2 linked regions of the Homo sapiens genome follow. The protein of the gene in region 1 interacts with the protein of each later gene in a pairwise test. Each region holds a gene or a part of one and is shown in the gene's direction. Other genes may lie near its edges.

What was found. Proteins that work in one complex are often made in the same cells at the same time.
Region 2: the proteins of SH3BP5 (region 1) and MAN1A1 interact in a two-hybrid assay, tested with the Homo sapiens proteins (one large-scale study listed by IntAct).

The regions. Positions count from the first base shown.
Region 1 is NC_000003.12:15,322,358-15,326,274, reverse strand, and holds part of SH3BP5 (SH3 domain-binding protein 5), read left to right. Parts: intron 1-3,917. UniProt on the Homo sapiens protein: Functions as a guanine nucleotide exchange factor (GEF) with specificity for RAB11A and RAB25. Inhibits the auto- and transphosphorylation activity of BTK. Plays a negative regulatory role in BTK-related cytoplasmic signaling in B-cells.
Region 2 is NC_000006.12:119,199,762-119,203,492, reverse strand, and holds part of MAN1A1 (mannosyl-oligosaccharide 1,2-alpha-mannosidase IA), read left to right. Parts: intron 1-2,145; coding exon 2,146-2,239; intron 2,240-3,731. UniProt on the Homo sapiens protein: Involved in the maturation of Asn-linked oligosaccharides. Progressively trim alpha-1,2-linked mannose residues from Man(9)GlcNAc(2) to produce Man(5)GlcNAc(2).

The DNA.
Region 1 (3,917 bases):
CCTCTGGATGCCAGCCATCTGCCGTGTCACTTGGATGTCTGTCTCTTCCTGCAACCTGGGTTTGCCTCTGACCTTATTTGAACAGTGCTGGGTCCCCTTTGCATGCTGATTTATATCAGCAAAAGCCAACCTTTTCAAGCTGTAAAAGGAGGAACCTTTTAACCAGAGAGCCCTTGGATATAAGCCTGATGTTTTAAGTTAGGAAAATAAGCATTTTCCCACAGATCCATTGATCAGTCAGCTTTATTTATTTATTGAGACAGGGTCTTGCTCTGTCACTCAGGCTGGAGTGCAGTGTCACAATCTCGGCTCACTGCAGCCTCAGCCTCCCGGGTTCAAGCGATTCTCCAGCTTCAGCCTCCCAAGTAGCCAGGACCAAAGGCTCACACCACCACGCTGGCTAATTTTTGTATTTTTAGGAAAGATGGGTTTTGCAATGTTGGCCAGGCCGGTTTCAAACTCTGGAGCTGAGAGCGATCTGCCTCCCTTGGCCTCACAAAATGCTGGGATTACAGGTGTGAGCCACTGCGCCTGACCAGCTTTTTAATTCACTAAGTATTTATTGAGCACCTACTACGTGATGGGGGCAATTTTCGGTGATGGGGACAGAGCAGTGAAGAGAATGGACAGAAGTCCCTGCTTTTCTGAGGCTTACATTGCAGAGGGGGTGGAAAACGCAATAAAAAGTTAAAATACACATGGTAGGTTATCTGATGTATACAAAGGAGGCAAAGAGCTGGAAGGGGACTCAGCTGGTGGGTGTTTGGAGGCAAGGGGAGGGAGAGGAATGCAGTATTGTCTGGAGAGAGTGAGCAAGCCTCAGGCCATGTGGGGGAAGAACATTCCAGCTGGAGGGCGCATCAGGGCTAAGCCTGGCTTAGCTGAGGGCCAGCAAGGGGGCCTTGTGCCAGGCATGGGCGAGTAATGGATGGAAGAGGAGGCAGTGAGTCAGAGATAAATGGGTCATTCAGGTGTGCGACAGCCCTGCTAGGTGAGATAGTAAAACTCAATATGCTGATGTAATTTTTAAATGCCTATTTTATAGGTCTGTCTCTTTTCAAATGTTTGTTAAAACAGAAGCCACACTGAGAATTTCTAAGTCTAATCAGAATAAAGATTTGTAATATTTTATGCCCATGTTTATGTGGTTTTAAGCACAATTTGTAATGTTTTCATCATTTCCCGTGCTTGCTCTGAAAGTGGGCTGTTCCAGGGCTGTGAAGGGGTCCGTCCTTTTCCTCATTGCTCAGGTCAGGTGGGAATAGTTTCTGCTTATACTTGCAGGGTGGTTTGAAAAATCTTTGTTTCTGAGTATCTGTGTTCCTCAAACATGCTTAAGCCAGCACTCATTATCTCTGCCTTTCCTCCCTCTGAAAACCAGCAAATGTTTTCTCTTAAAACTTTTTTTTTTTTTTTTTGGACCCAAGGAGCAATGGTACAAACAAAAACTCTGTTTTGAGCTTAGAAACTTGGAGGTGAGAGTAAACTGGAAGCTGCCCGGCCCCTCCCTCATGAATTATTAGCACAAATCAGGAGAAAAATTCCTCTATCAAAGGACAGTGATACGTCCCAGCACTTTCTCCATTAAAACGTGTGGGTGGAATGCACTAGGGACTAGGTCCTGTAAGACTCAGTTGTGCTTCGAAGAAACTGCTAGGGAATGTTTGAAGCATAGATAGACCGGGGGAGGGAGGAGTAACTGTTTCTTGAAGCTGCACCAGATTCCAGGCCTGGTGGCAGGCTGCCCGGTCTAAGCTGGCAGAGCCCCTACACCCCTGACCTTCTTGTACACAGGTGAGATCTGGTTGAAGTAAACATTGGCCTGGAGGCCTTCCTGCAGCAAATCCTGTGTGGGGCACTGGGGACCAGGGTGGTCAACAAATAATCAGGCACGTCCCTGCCTCATGGAGCTTGCCGTCTCCTGGATTCAAGCAAGCAATTGTAGTGGGGTGAGGGGGATTCTAGGAGAGTCACTCAGGGCCCTTTGAGAGGCCAAAGCTTTGTTGAAATAGGGGGCATCAGAGTTGAGGCCTGCAGACCCCAGATAGTCTGAAGAGATAACATCAGCCTTAAAGTGGAGGAGGAAGAGAGCTGACGGTACAGACATTGTCTGCAGGTTGAGGAAGGTTGGGGTGGGGAGAGGTGGAGTGTTAACAGGACCTTTGGTGATTGGTTGATTATAAAGAAAAAACACATGTGTGGTCTTTGCGTCTCTTCAGGGTAGCCTGAGCCAGGGCTGCTGCACTGCCCCCATAGCTCTGACTTGAAGTTTGGCCATCAGAATGGTGGTACTGAAGGCCTTGGGCTTCAGTGGTCCCCCCATACTGCTTATTTCCCTTTGGGGAAGTAGGTGAGTGGAGAAACATTTGAAACTTGTAGAGTGACTTAGCTATAGGACAGCCGGCAAAGCTTGGCCTCTGGAGCCAGACCGCCTGGCATTGAATCCCAGCTCCCTCTTCATAGCTGTGGGACCTCTGGCAGATTATGTAATTTCTGTGCCTCAATTTCTTCTTCTTTAAAATGGGATTGTGTCTCAGTTTTTGCTGTGAAATAACCAAAACCCAAAGCCGTGGGGAAGGGCAGGTGGAGGGAAGACAGCTGTCTTGACATCAGGTGATACAGGCTGAAATCAGAGGTCTGCTGACTTCTAGGGATACTTGGCACATGGAAGCCTCAGTCTCTTTGTCTTTGAATCTGGGGGCTGCAATTCTTGCCTACATCCCTGGGTAGCCTGGAGGATGGTAAGGGATGCTGTGTGAGAGAGTGCTTTGAGAGCTGCCCAGCCTGAGTGGACAAGAGGGCCCCCTGTGTGCTTGGCTGGCAGGGAGGGCTGAGACCCGCTGGGCGCTGCAAACAGAGAAGGTTCCAATGAGATGTCCACTGGGGCCAAACTGGCCATGGGGCCTGGCAGTGGCTCTGTTGTTCTCTTCCCCCAGGTCCTGCCATGACCTTTCTTTGTCAGATTGGCACTGGGAAGGGGGTCAGAGGGAGGGCTCATACAGGCCAGGATTACAGCGGGATGGACTTTGTAGTCACTGGATCAGCAGGGCGTTGCGCTGTGGCCTGCCTGCTGTAATGTGAAAATTAGTTTCCCTGAGTGAGCCCTGCTTTATTTATTTATTTATTTATTTATTTATTTATTTATTTGAGACAGGGTCTCAAAAACCGGAGTGCAATGATGTGATCTCTGCCACTGCAACCACTGCCTCCCAGGTTCAAGCGATTTTCGTGCCTTAGCCTCCCGAGTAGCTGGGATTACAGGCATGTGCCACCACACCCGGCTAATTTTTGTGTTTTTGGTAGAGACCGGGTTTTGCCATGTTGGTCAGGCTGGTCAACTCCTGACCTCAAATGATTCGCCTACTGCAGCCTCCCAAAGTGCTAGTATTACAGGCGTGAGCTACTGCGCCCGGCCTCCCGCTTTGTTTTTGTTTTTTCCTGAGACAGTGTTGGTCTCTGTTGCCCAGGGTAGGGTGCAGTGGCACAATCATAGCTCCCTGGAGCCTCGAACTCCTGGGCTCAAGTGATCCTCCCACCTCAGTCTCCCAAGTAGCTGGGACTACAGGAGTGCGCCACCACGCCTGGCTAATTTTTGTTTTTGTAGAGATGGGGTCTCTCCTTGTTGCCCAGGCTGGTCTCAAACTCCTGGGCTCAAGCAGTCCTCCTGCCTCGGCTTCCCAAAGTGTTGGGATTACAGGCATGAGCCGCCACACCCGGCCTCCCAGGCTGTTCTTGGACAGACTGACCGTGAGGACAGTTGTGACACTGGTAAAACACAACCTTGTGTTCTCCTTTCCCTCCCCAGAACCTGTCCACTTAGGCACATGTTGGCTCATGAACATGTAAGATTCTGCCTTGCTTGGGGGCGTTAGCATTTTAAGAGTGGCCTTTCACTTTAAAAAAAGATGATGTGTGGA
Region 2 (3,731 bases), on another chromosome or scaffold:
GTGGCCTGTGGGGCCTGGGTGACCTGGGCCCTGGCTCTCCTCTCCTCTACCTGCTGACATTCTCCCCTTTGTCTCCTCACCTCTGGCCTCAGTAGCATTGCAAACCTGCTGTCTCCTCAGGGCCTTTGTACTTGCTCCTCTCTCTGTTCCGAGTGCTCTTCCTCCACATTTCCACGTGGCCTACTCCCTCACTTCTTTAATATTCTGCTCAAACACCTCCGCCTTGCCAGGCCACTCTGACTAACATGGGATAGCCTCTCCACATCACCCTGTCCCGTTAACTCTCAATCAGCTCGGGTTACCATAACAAAAATGCAGCCAGAAACAACCGAAATTTATTTCTTACAGTTCTGGAGGCTGGGAAATCCAAGATCAAACTGCCCATGAGGTAGGTTTTATTCTGAGCCTCTTCCCTGGGCTTGTAGATGACGAGAACTGTCCCAGTGTGTGTTCACATGATGTCTTCTTTGTGCTCTGAGGGAGAGAAGGAGTCACAGAGAGAGAGAGAGAGCTCTTGTGTCTCTCATGAGGGCACTAATCCCATTTAAGGCTCTACCGTCATAACCTAATTACCATCTCCAAATAAATCTCCAAATACAATCACACTGGGAAGTAGGGTTTCAGCATATGAAATTAGGGGTATGCAGTTCAATCCATAGCACCCTTTTATTTTTTTCCACAGTATTTATCATCTCCTGACATACTATACAGTTAGGTGTTACTTAACAGTGTTTATTCAACAGTGGACCACATATGTGACAGTGGTCCTGTAAGTTTATAATGGAGTTGACAAAATTCCTACGGCCTTGTGACATCATAGTTGTCATAATGTCGTAGTGCAATGCGTTACTTACATGTTTGTGGTGGTGATGGCATAAACATACTCTACTCCCAGTCACATAAAAGTATAGCACATATAATTATGTACAGTACATAATATTTGATAATTAAATGACTGCATTACTGATTTATGTACTACTATGGTTTTTATTGTTATTTTAGAATGTACCACTTTTTTTTTAAGTTAGCTCTAGAAGCAAGGTCCTTCAAGAGGTATTCCTCTTCAAGGCATTATCATCACAGGAGTTGACAGCTCCATGCGTGCTACTGCCCCTGAAAGACCTTCCAGTGCGATAAGATGTAGAAGTGGAAGACAGTGATATTGATGGTCCTGTGGAGTCCTAAGCTAATGTGTATATGTGTCTTAGTTTTTAACAAAAAGTTTAAAAAGTTAAACAACTTTAAAAAGAAATTTTAAATAGAAAAAACTTATAAGAATATAAAGAAAGAAAATATTTTGGTACAACTATACAAAGTGTGTTTTAAGCTAATGGTTATTACAAAAGAGTCAAAATTTTTTTAATTAAAAAGTTTATAAAGTAAAATTACAGTAAACTAACGTTAATTTATTATTGAAAGAAAAATACTTTTATAAATGTATTAATAATGGCTAAGTGTACCATGTTTATAAAGTTTACAGTACTATACAGTAACGTCCCAGGCCTTCACATTCACTTATTACTCACTTACTAACTCATCCACTGCAACTTCCAGTCCTGCGAGTTTCATTCATGATAAATGCCCTATACAAAGTGCCCTGTATTTATGTATAGGGTTATAAAATGTATAACCCTATAGAAAGGTATCATTTTTCATCTTTTATAGTGTATTTTTCTGTGTTTAGATACACAAATACTTCAGTACAGTAACATATGCTACACAGGTTTGTAACCTAGAAACAGTAGGCTGTGCCAACTACATTTGTGACAGTGTGCTCTATGATGTTTGTACAAGAATTAAATTGCCTGTGTTTCCCAGCATGTATCCCTGTCATTAAGGGACACATGACTAGACTTATTGATTTATTGTCTGTCCCGTCCCACTAGGATGCACAATTCTAAGAGTGTGGTGACTTTGTTTATCCACTGGCCCCTTGTTCCTAGTATGGCATCTGGCTAATGGTAGATAACTAATCAGTGTGACTATATTCACTTACTGCCATTATGTTTGTAATAATAAGCTAACAGCAGTTATCTTTGTTCTAACTCTGCATCATTTAAGTCAACTTGTATGTTCAAGAAGAAGAAGAATGGCATGAAAATTGTTTTTTAGATTTTCACGGTAACATTTTATTTTCTATTATAGGTAATGAATATTCGAACAGTACTGAACAAACTGGAAAAACCACAAGGCCTTTATCCTAACTATCTGAATCCCAGTAGTGGACAGTGGGGTCAACGTAAGTCAGAAGATTTGCATTATTATAGCTCTTTTTGGTACTGTACTCGTGGAGAGAGAGGAAGCACAAAAGCAGCACAGATTTTGTTGAGAAATGTTTAGAAAAGGAGAAAAGGGCATGGCTCCTTTAATAAACAGGCTTCTGTCATCAGATTGTGTTATTAGGACACTGGATTGTGTATTTTTCATATATAACTCCAAGTGTGATGACATATAAGCACATTTACAGCTATTAATCAGAAAGGGAAGATCTGGCCAGAGTAGTGTGGGGATGTTAATCTGTAACAAGCTGGTCATGTGGATAGAAAGGAAATTCATTCCTTTGTACTAATGACTATGAGGGTTTTATAGAGAGTAGGTAGACCATTCTGCTTCCTAACATTCTGTTTCTGCATGGCTATATAATGAGAGAGGAGCCTGAATTTTTAAGAGTTGGGAAATTGGAAGAGCAAACAGCCTGTTTTTCTCTTCTTAATTTTAAGCTGCCAGATATAAAGGTTTCTTGCCAGTAGAATTACCTTTAGGATGGGAGAAAGTATTGCACAAGAACTTTTGATCCTAGAAGCCTGCACTTAAGACTCTTCAGACGATTTTGAGCAGGGGCATAAAGATTCAGAGTAGTTGAAAGAAATGTTCTCAAGCTGATTTGGAAAAACAGTAGTAGATTAAATAGCTGAAAACAAGTGAAGAATATTGAGATACCCAACTGTAGCAAGAGTACACTGCCTTAAGATTTTACTCTAATTTGGGTTTTTTCTTTATATTTTAATATCATGTTCTTAGATACCTCATTATTACTTTAGAAGTACTTTTCTTAAAGAATAGTTTAATAGGAAAGTATATGCCAAAATCCATATGCTAAAATATGTCTGTAGCTCTGGAAGGCCTAGCTGTTGAAACCTTAGGACTATAATCAAGGTTACCACTTACCTAAGTGTGGTCAACAGATCACTGGAAGTCCTTGAGACCTCTGAGGAGGCCCACAAGGTCAAAAATATTTTTATTATAATACTAGTATAATGATATATAATAACAAGACATATAATACATGTCTTAGTCATATTTACTAAGCCAGTACACAGTATCTTGCACTTAGTGGATGTTTACTTACTTAAATTTTGTGAATACATATGTGCTCTGTATCTCATCTCTCTTTCTGCCTCTGCTTTTAATAGTGGTACTTTGAAAGACTTTCTGCCTTTTCTAATGTGTTGATATTTACACCTACAGTGTTAGGTGATACTGCTGAAGCCTCACTGAGAACAAAGGCGAACAAACACCAAATAGTACTAATATTCATATTTTTTCTTTTTTTTTTCTTTTTTGTGGGACAGGGTCCCACTGTGTCACCCAGGCTGGAGTACAGTGTCATAATCTCAGCTCATTGCAACCTCTGCCTCCTGGGCTCAAGCTGGGCTCAAGCTATCTTCCCACCTCGGCCCCCCGCCCCGAGTAGCTGGGACTACAGGTGCACGATGCCATGCTCAGCCAAT